4 linked regions of the Homo sapiens genome follow. The protein of the gene in region 1 purifies or fractionates together with the protein of each later gene. This does not show direct contact. Each region holds a gene or a part of one and is shown in the gene's direction. Other genes may lie near its edges.

The links.
Region 2: the proteins of BOP1 (region 1) and SYT10 purify together in Homo sapiens (affinity purification with mass spectrometry, with the first as the bait; one study listed by BioGRID). This does not show direct contact.
Region 3: the proteins of BOP1 (region 1) and ME1 fractionate together in Homo sapiens (co-fractionation; one large-scale study listed by BioGRID). This does not show direct contact.
Region 4: the proteins of BOP1 (region 1) and ACAP1 purify together in Homo sapiens (affinity purification with mass spectrometry, with the first as the bait; one study listed by BioGRID). This does not show direct contact.

What each region holds. Positions count from the first base shown.
Region 1 is NC_000008.11:144,260,331-144,264,494, reverse strand, and holds the end of BOP1 (ribosome biogenesis protein BOP1), read left to right. Parts: intron 1-57; coding exon 58-270; intron 271-352; coding exon 353-514; intron 515-583; coding exon 584-664; intron 665-733; coding exon 734-803; intron 804-884; coding exon 885-1,017; intron 1,018-1,093; coding exon 1,094-1,274; intron 1,275-1,353; coding exon 1,354-1,642; intron 1,643-1,757; exon of another isoform or gene 1,758-1,822; coding exon 1,823-1,907; intron 1,908-1,991; coding exon 1,992-2,099; intron 2,100-2,177; coding exon 2,178-2,331; 3' UTR 2,332-2,450; downstream 2,451-4,164. Other genes in the region: MROH1 (maestro heat-like repeat-containing protein family member 1), read right to left, coding at 2,755-2,840, 3,146-3,211, 3,279-3,381, 3,454-3,580, 3,663-3,818, 3,951-4,012, 4,121-4,164. UniProt on the Homo sapiens protein: Component of the PeBoW complex, which is required for maturation of 28S and 5.8S ribosomal RNAs and formation of the 60S ribosome.
Region 2 is NC_000012.12:33,404,472-33,409,188, reverse strand, and holds part of SYT10 (synaptotagmin-10), read left to right. Parts: intron 1-870; exon of another isoform or gene 871-950; intron 951-1,832; coding exon 1,833-2,400; intron 2,401-4,717. UniProt on the Homo sapiens protein: Ca(2+) sensor specifically required for the Ca(2+)-dependent exocytosis of secretory vesicles containing IGF1 in neurons of the olfactory bulb. Exocytosis of IGF1 is required for sensory perception of smell.
Region 3 is NC_000006.12:83,210,193-83,214,909, reverse strand, and holds the end of ME1 (NADP-dependent malic enzyme), read left to right. Parts: intron 1-2,815; coding exon 2,816-2,986; 3' UTR 2,987-4,508; downstream 4,509-4,717. UniProt on the Homo sapiens protein: Catalyzes the oxidative decarboxylation of (S)-malate in the presence of NADP(+) and divalent metal ions, and decarboxylation of oxaloacetate.
Region 4 is NC_000017.11:7,345,894-7,349,834, forward strand, and holds part of ACAP1 (arf-GAP with coiled-coil, ANK repeat and PH domain-containing protein 1), read left to right. Parts: intron 1-350; coding exon 351-402; intron 403-497; coding exon 498-598; intron 599-914; coding exon 915-1,038; intron 1,039-1,137; coding exon 1,138-1,349; intron 1,350-2,028; coding exon 2,029-2,098; intron 2,099-2,233; coding exon 2,234-2,328; intron 2,329-2,412; coding exon 2,413-2,582; intron 2,583-3,101; coding exon 3,102-3,274; intron 3,275-3,941. UniProt on the Homo sapiens protein: GTPase-activating protein (GAP) for ADP ribosylation factor 6 (ARF6) required for clathrin-dependent export of proteins from recycling endosomes to trans-Golgi network and cell surface.

The sequences.
Region 1 (4,164 bases):
GGCTTGGCCTGGGCTGACCGCCCCGCACTGCCCGTCCTGACCCGGCTGTCTATGCAGGTCTCTCGCATGGTGCACGCCATCAAGATGGGCTGGATCCAGCCTCGCCGGCCCCGAGACCCCACCCCCAGCTTCTATGACCTGTGGGCCCAGGAGGACCCCAACGCCGTGCTCGGGCGCCACAAGATGCACGTACCTGCTCCCAAGCTGGCCCTGCCAGGCCACGCCGAGTCGTACAACCCACCCCCTGAATACCTGCTCAGCGAGGAGGAGGTGGGCCTGCATCCTGGGGGCCGGGACCCTGTCCCCATGCTTCCCTGTGACCCTCCCCACCCCTGTGTCTTGGTCTCCACAGCGCTTGGCGTGGGAACAGCAGGAGCCAGGCGAGAGGAAGCTGAGCTTTTTGCCACGCAAGTTCCCGAGCCTGCGGGCCGTGCCTGCCTACGGACGCTTCATCCAGGAACGCTTCGAGCGCTGCCTTGACCTGTACCTGTGCCCACGGCAGCGCAAGATGAGGGTGTGTGGGGGTGGCACACCAGGGGGGTGGCACAGGGGGCAAGGCTGACCTGGCGCTCTCCTGCCCCAGGTGAATGTAGACCCTGAGGACCTCATCCCCAAGCTGCCTCGGCCGAGGGACCTGCAGCCCTTCCCCACGTGCCAGGCCCTGGTAAGTGGAGACTAGGGGGCTGGGGTTGCACCCTCCCAGTCTGACTCCTCACTGCCGCCGCCTCCTCAGGTCTACAGGGGCCACAGTGACCTTGTCCGGTGCCTCAGTGTCTCTCCTGGGGGCCAGTGGCTGGTTTCAGGTGGGTCCGAGCTGGGGGCAGCCTTGAGCTGGGGGGCAGGTGGGATGGCCAGGTGTTGAGAGCTGTCTCTGCCGCATCCAGGCTCTGACGACGGCTCCCTGCGGCTCTGGGAGGTGGCCACTGCCCGCTGTGTGAGGACTGTTCCCGTGGGGGGCGTGGTGAAGAGTGTGGCCTGGAACCCCAGCCCCGCTGTCTGCCTGGTGGCTGCAGCCGTGTAAGTGGAGGCCCTGGGGGCTGGGGAGCCAGGGGTGGCACTGTGCTTAGGGGCCGTGTCTGGGCCTGGCTCACAGGGAGGACTCGGTGCTGCTGCTGAACCCAGCTCTGGGGGACCGGCTGGTGGCGGGCAGCACAGATCAGCTGTTGAGCGCCTTCGTCCCGCCTGAGGAGCCCCCCTTGCAGCCGGCCCGCTGGCTGGAGGCCTCAGAGGAGGAGCGCCAAGTGGGCCTGCGGCTGCGCATCTGCCACGGGAAGGTACGTGGGGCGCCTTGGGGGTGAGGCTGCAGCGGGAGGGGCCCGGCTCAGCCACTCAGCCAGCCTTGCTCTCCTGCAGCCAGTGACGCAGGTGACCTGGCACGGGCGTGGGGACTACCTGGCCGTGGTGCTGGCCACCCAAGGCCACACCCAGGTGCTGATTCACCAGCTGAGCCGTCGCCGCAGCCAGAGTCCGTTCCGCCGCAGCCACGGACAGGTGCAGCGAGTGGCCTTCCACCCTGCCCGGCCCTTCCTGTTGGTGGCGTCCCAGCGCAGCGTCCGCCTCTACCACCTGCTGCGCCAGGAGCTCACCAAGAAGCTGATGCCCAACTGCAAGTGGGTGTCCAGCCTGGCGGTGCACCCTGCAGGTGAGGGGTGGGGGCGGTGCACCCTGCAGGTGAGGGGTGGGGGGGGGGGCGGTGTACCCTGCAGGTGAGGGGTGGGGGTAGGGGCAGTGCACCCTGCAGGTGAGGGGTGTAGGTGACGGGCAGGGCAGTGCACCCTGCAGGTGAGAGCGGGAACACCTGCATCACAGCCTTTGGCCCTAGGTGACAACGTCATCTGTGGGAGCTACGATAGCAAGCTGGTGTGGTTTGACCTGGATCTTTCCACCAAGCCATACAGGATGCTGAGGTGAGGAAAGCTGGGGGTGGAGGCGGCCAGCAGAGCCCCTCCCTTCAGCCCGAGCCTGCCTTCAACCTGGTTCCCTCCCCCCAGACACCACAAGAAGGCTCTGCGGGCTGTGGCCTTCCACCCGCGGTACCCACTCTTTGCGTCAGGCTCGGACGACGGCAGTGTCATCGTCTGCCATGGCATGGTGTACAAGTGAGTGCTGACCCTGCCTGGCCCCCTCCCCAGGGCAGTGGTGTCTGGCCGTGCCCTGAGCCCTCCTCGTCCCCACAGTGACCTTCTGCAGAACCCCTTGCTGGTGCCCGTCAAGGTGCTGAAGGGACACGTGCTGACCCGAGATCTGGGAGTGCTGGACGTCATCTTCCACCCCACCCAGCCGTGGGTCTTCTCCTCGGGGGCAGACGGGACTGTCCGCCTCTTCACCTAGCTGTTCTGCCTGCCTGGGGCTGGGGTGGTCGTGCTGAAGTCAACAGAGCCTTTACCCTGTGCTGCCTGGTGCTCCCACCTTCTTGAATTGGGGTTGCCAACAAAGCCGCCCCCACCACAGCGCCGAGCCTTCCCCTCACTCAATTTTGCAAAAACAGTGGGGACAACACAGCCAGTCCAGGGCACCCTCTGGCCCATCCCCTAAGAGGCTCAGCATCGCACCCTGTCAGTCACTCGCTGGGAGCAGATGAGTTTATTGGGCACATCCCTCACTGAAGGGCTTGGGTTTGGTCCCCAGCAGTGCCTGTTCTGGGGCCAGGCCCCTCCAGTCGTGTGCCCAGGCTGTGGTCCTCAGGAGGCCCTGTCTTGGAGCTCAGGCACAGGTCTGGGTGCATACTCCTCGCTGGGGGTGCTGGCCGGAGCCTTAGGCGAGCTTCACCAGGCGGCCCAGGGCCTCAGCAGCCCTCGTCCGCACCTCGGGGGCCGGGTCCTTCAGCAGGATCTGGAGCGCTGGGGGTAGAGGAGGGGGGCTGCCTGCGGGCTGTGACCTCGGCATGCCCATGCCTGCGCGTGGGCCACGCTCTCCTGACAGCCTCTGCTGGGAGGCTCAGGAGCCAACGGAAAGATCGTTTTTCCTTTTTTAGTGTTTTTTAAGCTCTTTTGGAACAGTTAAGAAGTTTCCGTGAATTACTAGAGACGATGAGGTCACCAGTGACAGGGAAAAAGTCCTGAAATCCAGGAAAATCACTTAGTCCCTGCGGGTGCCTACAGGGTCAGCAGGGCCCAGCGGAGGGGCCCCGTGGAGGGGTGCTCACCCGCAATGAGCTGGTCCAGGTCCACCTGCGGCTGCTGCCTGGGCTCCGAGTGCAGCACCAGGAACCCTGTGAAGTGGGGGCATCAGGCGGGGCTGCCGGGCGGCGTGGGGGTGGGGCAGGGGGTGGTGCTTACCGGTGAACAGGGGTGCAGCAGCTCGGACGTTCTCCCAGCTGCTCTTGAAGTAGAACAGGCAGGTGGTCAGGAGACGGCCCAGCAGGTCTGGGAAATGGTGCATCTGGGGAGAGGCCTGGTCAGTGCCGCCTGGCCCCGCCCCACCCACCACGCCCCGCCTGGCCCCACCCCTCACCAGGTGCTTGCAGGTGGTGTTGAGGAACTCCCCGAAGTGCAGGGCTCGGCCCTCCTGCAGGTGTTTCTGGAAAGCAGCTGAGAGCTCCTCACATGCCAGATTGGGGCCACACATGCGCAGGGCAAACCTGCAGGCCTAAGGGATGCGGCACTGGGGCCAAGTCCAGTTGAGGCCACCCACCCCATCCCACTCACCCCCTGGCTACTCACGCTGGCCACGGTGGCCTGAGGGTCCTGCAGGTGCAGCAGCAGGGGCGCCAGCCCGCCCACCACCTGGTCCAGGAAGACGTCCTCACAGTCTCCGTGGCAGACCTTGTTAAGGTGCCCAAAGAGGCGGATAGATGCCGTCCGGAACTCCATCTTCTCCTGGGAAGGACATGCAGCATACGTCTCCTCACAGGCTGTGCCCCTGCAGGCCTGCCTGCCTAGCCCCCTGCCATTGATGGGTGCCCTTGCCTGACCCGGGCCAGGAAACACCCCGACGGGTGGGGGCCTTACGGGTGGGGGCTGCCAGGCCCAGCAAAGCAGCAGCCCTGCAGGTCCGCGCTCTCCACGGTCACCTAGCCGAGGTGGGAGACAGGGAGGAGGGTGGGGCTGGGGCTAAAGCTCAGAGTAAGAGGCAGGAAGGGCTGGGGCCCTCTTCCCTCCCCCTGCCCCAACCAGCCTACACTGTCGAAGAAAGGCCGGATGCGGATGGCCACGTGCAGCAGCC
Region 2 (4,717 bases), on another chromosome or scaffold:
TTAATCATGCAATGTCATCTATATTACTTAGTGCTGTAACAGGTGTAGACCTGCTGCAATAGACAACAGAAGTGAATAAAGTATTTTGAAATGAGTGTTCTGAGGGTGCACTGACTGGGTATTAAGTATAAGACAGAGCTGGAAGGAAAAAAAAAAGCCAGCTGAAGGTGACTAGAGAAAGCAAAATATATGGAGATAAGGATCTGGACTCCACAGCAATGGAAAAGGAGTGGAATGAACAACTATATGAGATGTTTCAAAGGAAAAGCAACAGGATTTAGAAAACTGAGTAAATCCTATGGGTAAAGGGAGAATGATTCAAAGCATACTTCATTCTTGGAAGCATGAGTGACTGATAAAAAATATTAGTGCTATTGTCAGAGATTGTGGGATAAAGAACCGATTTGCAAGCAAAAGGGAGAAAATGATGAGTTTGGTTGCATTTGGGGAGAAATGAAGACATCTGTTTAGAAATCTTCCTTAGAAATTTAGAGATACGGGACTAGAAGTTTATGTAGCTGGGATTTATCTGAGAAACCATCAGATTCAAGACAATAATTATAGTCCAAGAACTGATGATTAGTCTGATGAACAGACTGACAAGAAATATAACAAAAGACGTGGGACTAAGCTTTGAGGAGATGGGTAGTTTGGCACAGTTCGTGCCAGAAAGCATGGAGTAAGTATAAAAGCAGCAGATCTTTAATGCAAGTCACATGTAGAAGACATTAGTAAGCTTATATATTTAATATTCTGGAAATGTTGACTAGATGAGTAGTAATAGTGACTATAGGAAATTCAGTCTGAATTTTTAAAAACTTGTTTTGTTGGGCTCAAATTCTAAAATTCTACGTTTGTTTTTATCCTTAGAGTTTCTGAAGACCACAGCATGTTGAAAAAAAGAAAATGTACTCATTTTTGGCTGCCACAACTATATATTCTTTTTAAAAGTAAATATGTATTTAGTTAGATTAAGAATTAGAAACAACTCATTATAAGAAAATGTGGACCTATAACATGTTTTTAATTTTAATACTATAGTCACTAAAATGTGAAATTCATGAGACTCAAATATCCAGGTGAAAAGAAACCAGCCATCTGAATGATTTTGTCTGTATAATACTTACATCTAGATAGACCCAGATGACTGATAACATTCACAATTTTCTGTGGAATATTGAATTTTTTTGCTAATCATGTTTCTTTAGAATTGTTTTTAATTATGTGCTTATGATTGAGAGTACAAAATTTCAAAAGCATATGAAAATTAACATTGGCCAGCCACGTGTTGTGGCTCACTTGTGTTATCTCGGCACTTTGGGAGACTGAGGTGAGAGGATTGCGTGAGCCCAGAAGTTCAAGACCAGCCTGGGCAACATAGCAAGACTCTGTCTCTACAAAAAATTTAAAAATTAACTGGGCAGGTGTGGTGGCACATGCCTGTAGTCCCAGCTACTCAGGAGGCGGAGGCCAGAGGATGGCTTGAGCTCAGGAGTTTTAAGCTACAGTGAGCTATAATAGCACTACCGTACTCCAGCTAGGGTGACAGAACAAGATCCTGTCTCAAAAAACAAAAAACAAAACAAAACAAACAAACAAAAAGAACATTTAAGTGTTTCAGATGTTCTGGAATTTTAGGAGACTTCTCTTTGAATATTGTACTTCTTTATTTTTTCAAAAGTACCTCTTTGATTATATGTATGTGTCTATCTATGTAGATATAGATATCTTTTCACTATTCTGGGGGTGGGGAAGAGTTTATATGTCACTGTATAACATTCTCATCAAAATGATCTCCCTCAATGATTTTGTGTATATGTGTGTGTGTTCAGCCACAGTTCCTTCCGAAGACACCTGCCGAGGCAAATGCAGGTTTCCAGTGTTGATTTTAGCATGGGCACAGAACCTGTTTTACAACGAGGAGAAACAACAACCAGCATTGGGAGGATAAAGCCAGAACTCTACAAACAGAAATCAGTTGACTCTGAGGGCAACCAAAACGAAGATGTCAAAATCTGTGGGAAACTTAACTTTACCCTCCAGTATGATTATGAAAATGAACTTCTAGTTGTTAAAATTATCAAAGCTTTAGATCTCCCTGCTAAAGACTTCACAGGAACTTCTGACCCTTATGTGAAGATGTATCTTCTTCCAGATAGGAAAAAGAAATTTCAGACCCGCGTGCACAGAAAGACTTTAAATCCTCTATTTGATGAAACTTTTCAATTTCCTGTAGCATATGATCAACTAAGCAACCGAAAACTACATTTCAGTGTGTATGATTTTGACAGATTTTCTAGACATGACATGATTGGGGAAGTGATTCTTGATAATTTGTTTGAAGTCTCTGATCTCTCCAGGGAAGCCACAGTATGGAAAGATATTCACTGTGCTACCACAGTAAGTAGTAATTCCACCAATATATTGTTTTTTATTTGACTTACAATGCTATGTGACTAATTATTACCCAAATTATCGGAATAAGCCTTGCAGAGTTATGGAATTTATGTCTAAGATCCTGCAAAGGTAGAATTTCATTTCTACTAATAATAATTCAGGCACCTAATGCTGAATATACTAGTAACCCTAGTGATTGTGTGAATAAAAAAACGTAGCTCTTATAAATTAGCAGAACTGGTAGGCTATTTCTCCTTTAAAATATTCATCTGTAATATAAATATCCTATCTGCAGCACCAAGTTTCCTCACAGTTAGTATTGACTTTCATTATTTAAGGTAATTTTGTTATTTTCATTATTTTAGAAATTATTTCACTCTTTAAGAATAATGACTTCATTATTTAAGATAATTCATCAGATCAAACCTAAAATGTACTTTGATGCTATTTGGAAAAGTCCTTGGTTTGATCTGAAACAACCCATTATTTCAGAAGCTTTCAGGGAATACACACAATTACAATATATGAAATGATCAGTGATCAAGAAGTAATCATTGTTTACATTAAAACTTTTCTTTTTCATTACAAAATACTTTTTCTGATTATAAAATAATACCAACTTTAGTACTGAAAATTTAAAAAACAGTAAAAACACATAGCATAAAATTAAAATAATCTACAGTGCTACCAATTATATTTAATATTTTGGCATATTGCTTTCCAACTTTTTGCTATGCATATTTTAAAATATTAAGACCATACTAAGTTAAATTTTTTCAAGCCAATTTTCTTTCATTCTATATTTGTTTTAGTGCATGATGTTGAAATACATGATCCATTTAACCATTTTCTTACTGTTAGACACTTAAGTTAGGGATAAATTTTGTTATATGAAAAATTATGTTCTTTTTTTGTAAATCTGTTTTTTTTTTCAAGATTATTTGTCCGGTATAGAATTATAGAAGTGGAATTAGAGAAGTGATCTCTTAAGTTAGATTGTTTTCTTTATTAGTTTTTAAATGGGGACATTTAATTTTTTACCATCAGGTTGTTTTTACATATTTACTGTCTTTTGTTTGAGTTGTATCGCAACTTACAAGTTTAAAATGTTGAAGTTTTGAACAGAGACAAGGGATTATTTAAAATATAAGCATTTTTTTATTCAAAATAGCTTGTGTTTTTCCATTTATGAATGTTTTACTAATTACAATCAGTATGTGGGATAATTATATTGTCATTGTAAATTATGTGGATAAATTAATTTAAAAATTTATACTGCCAGTTCAATATTGTATTCCAGCATTATAACATTTTTGGTTGTTGGATTTTTGTGTCATAATCTCTATTGCAATATCTATTAAGGAACAAAGAAGGAATTTTGAAAGGGGATTATATTTCAAATGCACAGTGGGGCTCTTTTGATTTCACATTTGTGTTCATTTTATTACCTATATTCCCACGGGGAAAACATGATGAATACTAATTTTTATTGTTTTTAAAAATAACACCTTCTAGAATTCTACAAATGCAGATGGCAATTAATTGTTAGATTATTTCTCTTGATTCCTCAGTCTTATTATTACTTTTTATTTATTCAACAAATATTTACCTATATATGTTTGGCATGCTCTAAGTACTAGGGTTGCAACAAACACATTTCTATAAAAAAGTAAAGTATGTTATGTACATATATTCAGGCTCAGAGGTAAATAATCTGCCAATGAAATCTAAAAAATTAGTATAATCGACTAGGAGATTGTGATTTTTTTTTTTAAACATTCATACGTTTTCCAAACTGGTTCTACTTAGAAAAAAGTAGGAGTTCCTTGTGGAAACTTTAGTTTCTCATTGCTAATAATATTTATTCATTGTTTGGTAAATATTAATAAATTACTTAAATTTATTTGCAACTCTCCCATATGCCTTGTATATTAGTTTTTATTTCTGCTATAAAAATTACCACAAATTTAGCTTACACAAACATTTTACAGTTTGGTTAGAAATCTTTTACAGTTTGGTTAGAAATACAGTTTGGTTAGAAATTACCACAAATGTAGTCTTACACAAACATTTTACAGTTTGGTTAGAAACCTAACATGGGGCCAGGTGTGGTGGCTCATGCCTGTAATTCCCAACACTTTGGGAGGCCAAGGTGGGTGGATCACGAGGTCAAGAGTTCAAGACCAGCCTGGCCAGCATGGTGAAACCCCATCTCTACTAAAAATACAAAAAATTAACCAGACATGGTGTCACATGCCTGTAATCCCAGCTACTTGGGAGGCTGAATCAGGAGAATTGCTTGAACCCGGGAGGCGGAGGT
Region 3 (4,717 bases), on another chromosome or scaffold:
TATCACACCTAGAATAATGGAAGAATACAGAGTGCATACACAGAAATTGAGAAACTAGAACAAAGAACCAACTTCAGAGAGGGAGATCATGTAAGTGGACTGCAAGTTTGAGGTATCAATGGCACATTCAAATGTACCATTTTATCAAGTAGATAGAAATGACTGAAACTTAAAGAGAGGCTAGATAAAAGACCTGGGCATCTTCTGCATGTGGTAACTGGTGAATATCTAGGAGTGGGTGAGGTTGCCAAGAAAGCAAGTATAGAAAGGAAATAAAAATGAGAATAGAATATAGTTTATTATTCTGTCTAGAAGACAGAAGAAAGATGCCAGTTAAGAAGAGAAGTGGTCAGGATTTTAAGAGACTCCAAACTGAGCAGCATGTCAATAATTAGGAAAGAGACAATTTCAGAATGGGAGTGGAAATTGTGACCAACACAGCCAAATCCTGGAGAGAAAAACAGATGCAGACTTTTATTTGGTACTTAACAAGTTATCAGAGACTTTTACAAAAGAAATTTCAAGATGTACAGGAGGTTCAGAAGGCAGAGAATTAGGAAAGCAATAAAATATAAGCCACTCTGTCAGAGAGTTTGGCATTGACAGGACAGAGAGAGTGAAGATTTCATTGGGAGAAGGGATTATTTCTATGGTATAACTGGGAGCAGAAAGAGGAGATGAATTTCCACATAGTCTATGTCAGTAATGAAACAATGTGTTTTATTATAAAATTAACATAGCCATCTTAAGTAGGCATGAGGGATCTTTTTGGGGTGATGGAAATATTCTAAAACTGAATGTGGTAATATTGTTGCACAGCTCAGTAAATTTACAAAAATAATTTAGTTGTACACTTAAAATGCTTGAATTTTGTGTGAATTATATCTCAATAAATCTGTTTAAAAAGTAATACTACCATATTATGGGCACTTTGGAAAACAAATAGAGAAAAGGAAAATAACCAATATCCTATTTTTCTAATATAAGTATTATTTTTTTTCCTGTGTTTGTTTTGAGTCTTTCGTTTGTTTATTTTCTAACATTATTATAATTATGAAATATACATATTGTTTCCTGCTTTTTCATAGACATTTCATAATACAGCACAGTATTCATAACCTTAATTGTTCATAAATGCATAGTTTTACATTGAGATGAGATAATCATTCTGATATTCTTTGAAATCAGACTTATCAAAATAAGTCAGTCATATAAATATTGTTTTAAGAACTGATGTGAATTCGGCTGGGCACGGTGGCTCACACCTGTAATCCCAGCACTTCGGGAGGCCAAGGCAGGTGGATCACCTCAGGTCAGGAGTTTGAGACCAGACTGGCCAACATGGCGAAACCCCTTCTCTTCTAAAAAAGTACAGAAATTAGCCGGGTGTGGTGGCAGGAGCCTGTTAACCCTTGGGAGGCTGAGGCAGGAGAATCGCTTGTTTTTTTGTTGTTGTTGTTTTTTGTTTTGTTTTGTTTCGTTTTTGAGATGGAGTTTTGCTCTTGTTGCCCAGGCTAGAGTACAATGGTGTGATCTCGGCTCACTGCAACCTCTGCCTCCCGGGTTCAAGTGATTCTCTTGCCTCAGCCTCCCGAGTAGCTAGGGTTACAGGCATGCACCACCACACCCGGCTAATTTTGTATTTTTAGTAGAGATGGGGTTTCTCCATGTTGGTCAGGCTGGTCTTGAACTCCTGACCTCAGGTGATCCACCTGCCTCGGCCTCCCAAAGTGCTGGGATTACAGGCATGAGCCACTGTGCCAGCCAGAGAATCGCTTGAACCCAGGAGGCAGAGGTTGCAGTGAGCTGAGATCGTGCCACTGCACTCCAACCTGGGTGACAGAGTAAGACTCCATCTCAAAAAAAAAAAAAAACTGGTGTGAATTAAATAGTATATATGAAGTGATTAATTTTGATGAAGAGAATCCATTTAAAGAAAGTAGGGAAAGAGAAGATGTATGAAGACACTGAGGAGATAGTCTGAGTTGGTCAAAAGGGAAATTAAGGTCATTTTCTCTGAGTAGTTGAAATTTTCTCCCATGATGTGATATGATGATGTGATTCTCCAGTGAGTGATGAGAGTCAAATGGAAGCTTGAAGATGGGGGAAGGTTTGGAATTGCTTTTTGGGAACCACAAGAGGAAGTTTTAAGTAAAGAGAGAAAAAAGTATAATGTGCAGACTAGAAAAAAAATATAGCACCACAGAAAGTTTACTGCATCGTTCTAGGATGCACAGCCACAAAAGGAGAAAGCCAGCTCTGAGGGGTCCCCAGACGAGGGACTAGAATTATGCATGAAACACAGGGCGTGATGACCAGAGAATCTGTGACGCTGGCAAAGAGTGCTCATCCTGACTGTGGTGTCTAGATGATTAGCTGAGCAAGATCAGGAGACCCTGGGGTACAGGAAGAGATTTTGTAGGAGGCTGTGGTGAGAATAGGGATTCTTGAAAATTCAAGGTTCAAGTTTAGCAGGACTATTTAGGTATTTATTTCAAGTTAATTGTCAGTCAGGTCATGTCAAGACTTTGAACACTGGCTTCTCTGAGAAATCCAGATGTGATAGTACTTGAATCAGTCTCACCTGGTCACACTTTCCTTAGTTGCTGATGTCATTTTTCTCTCTCACTATATGATTTATAATTGCATTTTCATTTTATATCTTCATTGCTTATATGTGCTTTTATTATAATACACTTAATGTTTTTGCAAACATAGGATACAGTGTTTTTGAAATGGATAAAAACTTCCACTCACATGGGCTCATGATTACCTCTATTTATTAAAATAATTAATATTCTTTTCTTATATCTAGATTGTGAAAGATGCATACCAAGAAAAGACAGCCACAGTTTATCCTGAACCGCAAAACAAAGAAGCATTTGTCCGCTCCCAGATGTATAGTACTGATTATGACCAGATTCTACCTGATTGTTATTCTTGGCCTGAAGAGGTGCAGAAAATACAGACCAAAGTTGACCAGTAGGATAATAGCAAACATTTCTAACTCTATTAATGAGGTCTTTAAACCTTTCATAATTTTTAAAGGTTGGAATCTTTTATAATGATTCATAAGACACTTAGATTAAGATTTTACTTTAACAGTCTAAAAATTGATAGAAGAATATCGATATAAATTGGGATAAACATCACATGAGACAATTTTGCTTCACTTTGCCTTCTGGTTATTTATGGTTTCTGTCTGAATTATTCTGCCTACGTTCTCTTTAAAAGCTGTTGTACGTACTACGGAGAAACTCATCATTTTTATACAGGACACTAATGGGAAGACCAAAATTACTAATAAATTGACATAACCAACATTAAAACTCATAATTATTTTGTTGACCATTTTGTTAAAATCTACTTTTCAAAAAAAAAAAGCTAGAAATGAATCTAGGCGTAGGTGAACTTTTGCTAAGCAGAAATAACACTACTTTGTTGCCTAGAGAAAGATAACTTCTCAAGTATTTTTATTCCAGTCCTAGATCATATATGTTCTTTTGTGCAACGGAATTCTAACAGTTCTAAGAGAAAGATCACTGCTGTTTACAGCGCCTTGTGCAGCCTTAGATTTTAATATTCTTTTGTCATTGTTACATCTCATAGAGTAAAGCTCTTATTACCTTGATCCTGAGTCAGAAATCCCACCTGAAATCACCTTTTTTCCCCCTTGATCAAACATCCCATCCTTCAGCTACCATACTGTTGCTACAGGGATTTTGTGGACTGTGGCCCCTGTCCCGAGGTTGGCACCTTCAGTTCAGCACAGCCTGAGCAGTGAGAAGGTCTGAAAGGAGAGTATATAGTTAAGATCCTTGAGAAAGGGCTGCCTGAGGAACTGACCTCTTAAAGATCTCAGGATCTTTAAGACAACAAGTTAGGTTCCTACTGGAGTTACCTGCCAGAATGGCCTCTTAATTAACTCAGGTAATGAAGAGCTAACTGTGTTATAATCATCTTGCTTTTGCCTGAATTTGGAGAAAGTATTATAATTAAGTTCCCAGTATCAGAAATGTCCTTACATAAGATTAAAATATCTTGATGACTAATACCATTCTATGAGAAAGAGTAGTTATATGCCCAGACTGTATTAATTTACTTTAGAAACTAATGTTTGAAGTAATGGAAAAAATTTTAAATTATAAAGCTAAGGTGCAATAACATTTGCTACTTATTTATAGAATTATTTGAAGAATTTTGTTTTTGAAGTAATGCTTTAAGGAGTATAAGATATTCAAGATAAATTATACTATAAAATGATTTTATTGAAAGTTGAAGGTTACACAAATTGTTTTAGGTATGAGCAGAAGAGGTTAAGGTATTTCTAAAGGTAACATATAGTCAAGAGTTTCCTCAAAATAGTTATTTGGAGAAGAATCAGAATGTCTGTGTATTTCTTGTCTGTTTCTATGTTGTCTTATAGCTCTGACTAAATGTGTTTACCTATGCAAAAGATTTATTAAAGCATAGAAAAGGTGAATGAATAAAAATATAAAATAATTGTCCTTTTTCTTAAAATGTTACATTGTAATGCTTGGTCTTGGGGTCATATGATTATGTGTGACGAATTTCTAAAATATTCTAATAACTGCTAATTTCAGTATAAACATCATTCATTTAAAACATATGTGGCTGGGCACAGTGGCTCACGCCTGTAATCCTGGCACTTTGGGAGGCTGAGACAGGCAGATCACCTGAGGTCAGGAGTTCAAGA
Region 4 (3,941 bases), on another chromosome or scaffold:
CCACCACCCCCATCAGCCTCCCAAAGTGCTGGGATTACAGGTGTGAGCCCAGCCTAAATAGTATTTTTTAAATTGTAGCAATAGACATTTTATTAGAAAAAGAATTTTACTGCCATCTGCTGGAAAGTTGTCTTCATAACTATATGAAATCTGGGTTGTCCAAGATAGGAATAGCATCCTTTAGATGTTCCAATCTGCACAATTGTCCACCCTTCTCTGGAATGTCTCGTGGAACAGTCAGCCCAGGTGTCTGTCCTCTCAGTAAGATCCTCATGGGCAAAAAGCACAGCCTCTCTTCCGTCCCTCATCCTAAAGCTGCCTATGTCTGTAATGATTTCCTTCTCTTACAGACGCTGGTTCACCATTCAGAGCAACCAACTGGTTTACCAGAAGAAGTACAAGGTGAGTGGACCTGGGTCCTGGATGCCTGGGCCCCAGGGAGACTCAGCTCTTGCCTGCAGCTGGACATCTGGCCCCTTATCACCTTATCCTGCCAGGACCCTGTGACTGTGGTGGTGGATGACCTTCGTCTCTGCACAGTGAAACTCTGCCCTGACTCAGAAAGGCGGTTCTGCTTTGAGGTGGTGTCCACCAGCAAGTGAGTGCAATCCCCAGGGGTGATACTCTAATATATCTAAACAACTGCCAATCTGAAAGGCAGGGCCCACCACAATGGAGGCCCCCCATGCAGCTCCAGACTTTAATTTAATTCTTTGGCGGCTGGACTGGGGGGCCATTGTGGAAGAGGGTACAGGGTGATGGGGGATATTTAGGAGAATATTACCAACTGGTACAGAAGTCTTTCAATGCAACTGGAACTGGTTGAATACTGGCTGAATGTCAGTCTGCCCATGCTGCCACTTTGCTTCCCAGGCCTCAGACCCCTCTGCCATCTCCCTCACCCTCCTACCTAGGTCCTGCCTCCTCCAGGCTGACTCAGAGCGCCTCCTGCAGCTGTGGGTCAGTGCTGTGCAGAGCAGCATTGCTTCTGCCTTCAGTCAGGCTCGCCTTGATGACAGCCCCCGGGGTCCAGGCCAGGTACCTTAACCTGGGGGTGCGGAGCCAGGCTGCCTGTGGAGATGGGGCACCCTTTACCCTAGGCCCCTTGGCCACCCTTTCTTCCCCTCTCTCCCCCAGGGCTCAGGACACCTGGCCATAGGCTCTGCTGCCACCCTGGGCTCTGGTGGAATGGCCAGGGGAAGGGAGCCTGGGGGAGTCGGGCACGTGGTGGCCCAGGTCCAGAGTGTGGATGGCAATGCCCAGTGCTGCGACTGCCGGGAGCCAGCCCCGGAGTGGGCCAGCATCAACCTTGGTGTCACCCTCTGCATTCAGTGTTCCGGCATCCACAGGTTACTCCACAAGGCCCATGCGGGAGCCCCACTCCTTCGGGCCACAGTGCGGCTCCAATACAGAGCGCATCACACCGGCCCCTCTTCCTTCCCTGTCCTGGCTTCCTCTCTTAGCTTCTGGCTTTGTCACTGGGTACCAGGCCTGGGCCCAAGCCTCTGGGGTGCCAGTTGGACCCAGGCGGGCCTAGCCCCTCTGTGTCCTAGTCTGGCCAGAATTGGGGGATACCCAGAATTTGTTGGCTTGGTTGGAAGAAGTGTGGGGTCAAGGCTGCTGAGGGTGGGGGAGCCAGTGAAGACTAGGCAGAGAAACGGTCATGAGGCCTTAGCAAGTATCTAAGGCCCTCGCCCCCCACCTCAGTGTGGTGGAAGGGAGGTGACATGGGAGAGGTTGTCCAGGCCAAAGTGTCACAAGTGTCACTAGAGAAGGGAGGTGGCTGGAGTGATGAGGGCCTTGAAATGAAACCTAAGGAAGAAGGAATGGTGACGAGGCAGAGTCCTGCCAGGGCCAGGTCAAGGCTACATGGCGGTTACATGGCCGCAGCTGCCCTGCCTCCTGGGCCAGCACCTCTGCACGGGCCCCCATGCCAGCCTTGCCTCCCAGTGTCTTCAGGAGCAGCAGCAGCTCCCCAGGCCACTGCCCCCCTGCACAGGGCCTGACCCTCCCCCTCTGGCCCTCCAGGAGCCTTGGTGTTCACTTCTCCAAAGTCCGGTCTCTGACCCTTGACTCATGGGAGCCAGAACTAGTGAAGGTAACTTAGCGTATTGTGAAGATTGGGGGCAAGAACTTGGGGTGGGGCAAGGACATGGCGGTGCAGGGGCGTGATCCCTGAGGAGTCACTCACCCCCACCTTCCCTGTCTCTGCCTCTGCCTGGGCCTCCTGAAGCTCATGTGTGAGCTGGGAAATGTCATCATCAACCAGATCTATGAGGCCCGCGTGGAGGCCATGGCAGTGAAGAAACCAGGGCCCAGCTGCTCCCGGTGAGCTTGGGGTTTAGCCTCCCAGGGGAATGGGGGACCCCTGGAGCAGAAGAGGGAAGACTGCGTGCTTCTCCCCTCCCACAGGCAGGAGAAGGAGGCCTGGATTCACGCTAAATACGTGGAGAAGAAGTTCCTGACCAAGCTGCCTGAGATTCGAGGGCGAAGAGGTGGCCGGGGGCGCCCAAGGGGGCAGCCTCCTGTGCCCCCAAAGCCTTCCATCAGGCCCCGGCCAGGGAGCTTGAGATCCAAGCCAGGTATAGGGTTGGTTGGGCATTCATTGAGCATCTGCTGTGTGCTCGGCATCGTGCCAGGTAGCGCCGGGAGGCACAGAGTGTGAAGCCCAGGCCTTCCGCTGGACAATGTCGGAGGGACCGGACTGCCGTTTCAGGGGTTACGGTGGAGTGTGACATTAAGAATGAGAAGGAATGTGGGGCTGGGCGTGGGCAGGGAGGGTAAGGGGTGCCAACAGCACAAGAAAAGGAGAGAGAGAGGGGGTGGGTTTGGCTGGAGCGTCAGGGGTTGAGAGCTGAGGCCAAGTGTGGTTGGACCAGATGAGGTGATGATGCCGTCTCTCCCCCACACCCTAGGGACTCGTACACATGCATACGCATACTTACACATACCCACACTTGCATCACTCTATTCCCTCCACAGTCCCAAGCTCCCCATCATTTAGAAGAGACCTGTCCCATTATAGCATTGGGACACTGCTGAGGGTTTTCTTCCCAGACTCGGAGCTGCTTCCCCCTAACAGAACCAAATCCCCCGAACAGAGCCCCCCTCTGAGGACCTGGGAAGCCTGCACCCTGGGGCCCTACTGTTTCGAGCGTCTGGGCATCCTCCATCTCTTCCCACCATGGCTGATGCCCTTGCCCATGGAGCTGATGTCAACTGGGTCAATGGGGGCCAAGATAATGCCACACCGCTGATCCAGGCCACAGCTGCTGTAAGAGCCCTGCTGACCTCTCCACCCCACCCTAGGGCTCTGACACCTACTCCTGACTCTGGGCCCTGCCCTTACCTCCTTTCCCCACCACCTGTTCCCTAGGGCTTCCACCCATAGGGAGAGATCAACAATAGAGACTGGTTGCTAAGAGTGTGTGATTTGGAGGCAGAGAACCTGAGTTTGAACCCAGGCTCTCACCTCTTACAGGAGACTTTTTTTTTTTTTTTTGAGACAGTCTCGCTCTGTCCCCCAGGCTGGAGTGCAATGGTGCGATCTCGGCTCACTGCAAGCTCCGCCTCCCGGGTTCACACCATTCTCCTGCCTCAGCTGCCTGAGTAGCTGGGACTACAGGCGCCAGCCAGCATGCCCGGCTAATTTTTTGTATTGTTAGTAGAGATAGGGTTTCACCGTGTTAGCCAGGATGGTCTGGATCTCCTGACCTTGTGATCCACCCGCCTCGGCCTCCCAAAGTGCTGGGATTACTGGCGTGAGCCACTGTGCCCGGCCTACAGGAGACTTTTAACAAGTTATTAACCTCTCAGCCTCATCTGTAAAATAGTAACATACCTCAAAAGCTTGTACTATGGATTTATATATGAATACATGCAAAGAGCTAGAGCCAAGCCTAGCTTGGTTACAGTTAGCTGTAACCCCTTCCACACTCCTG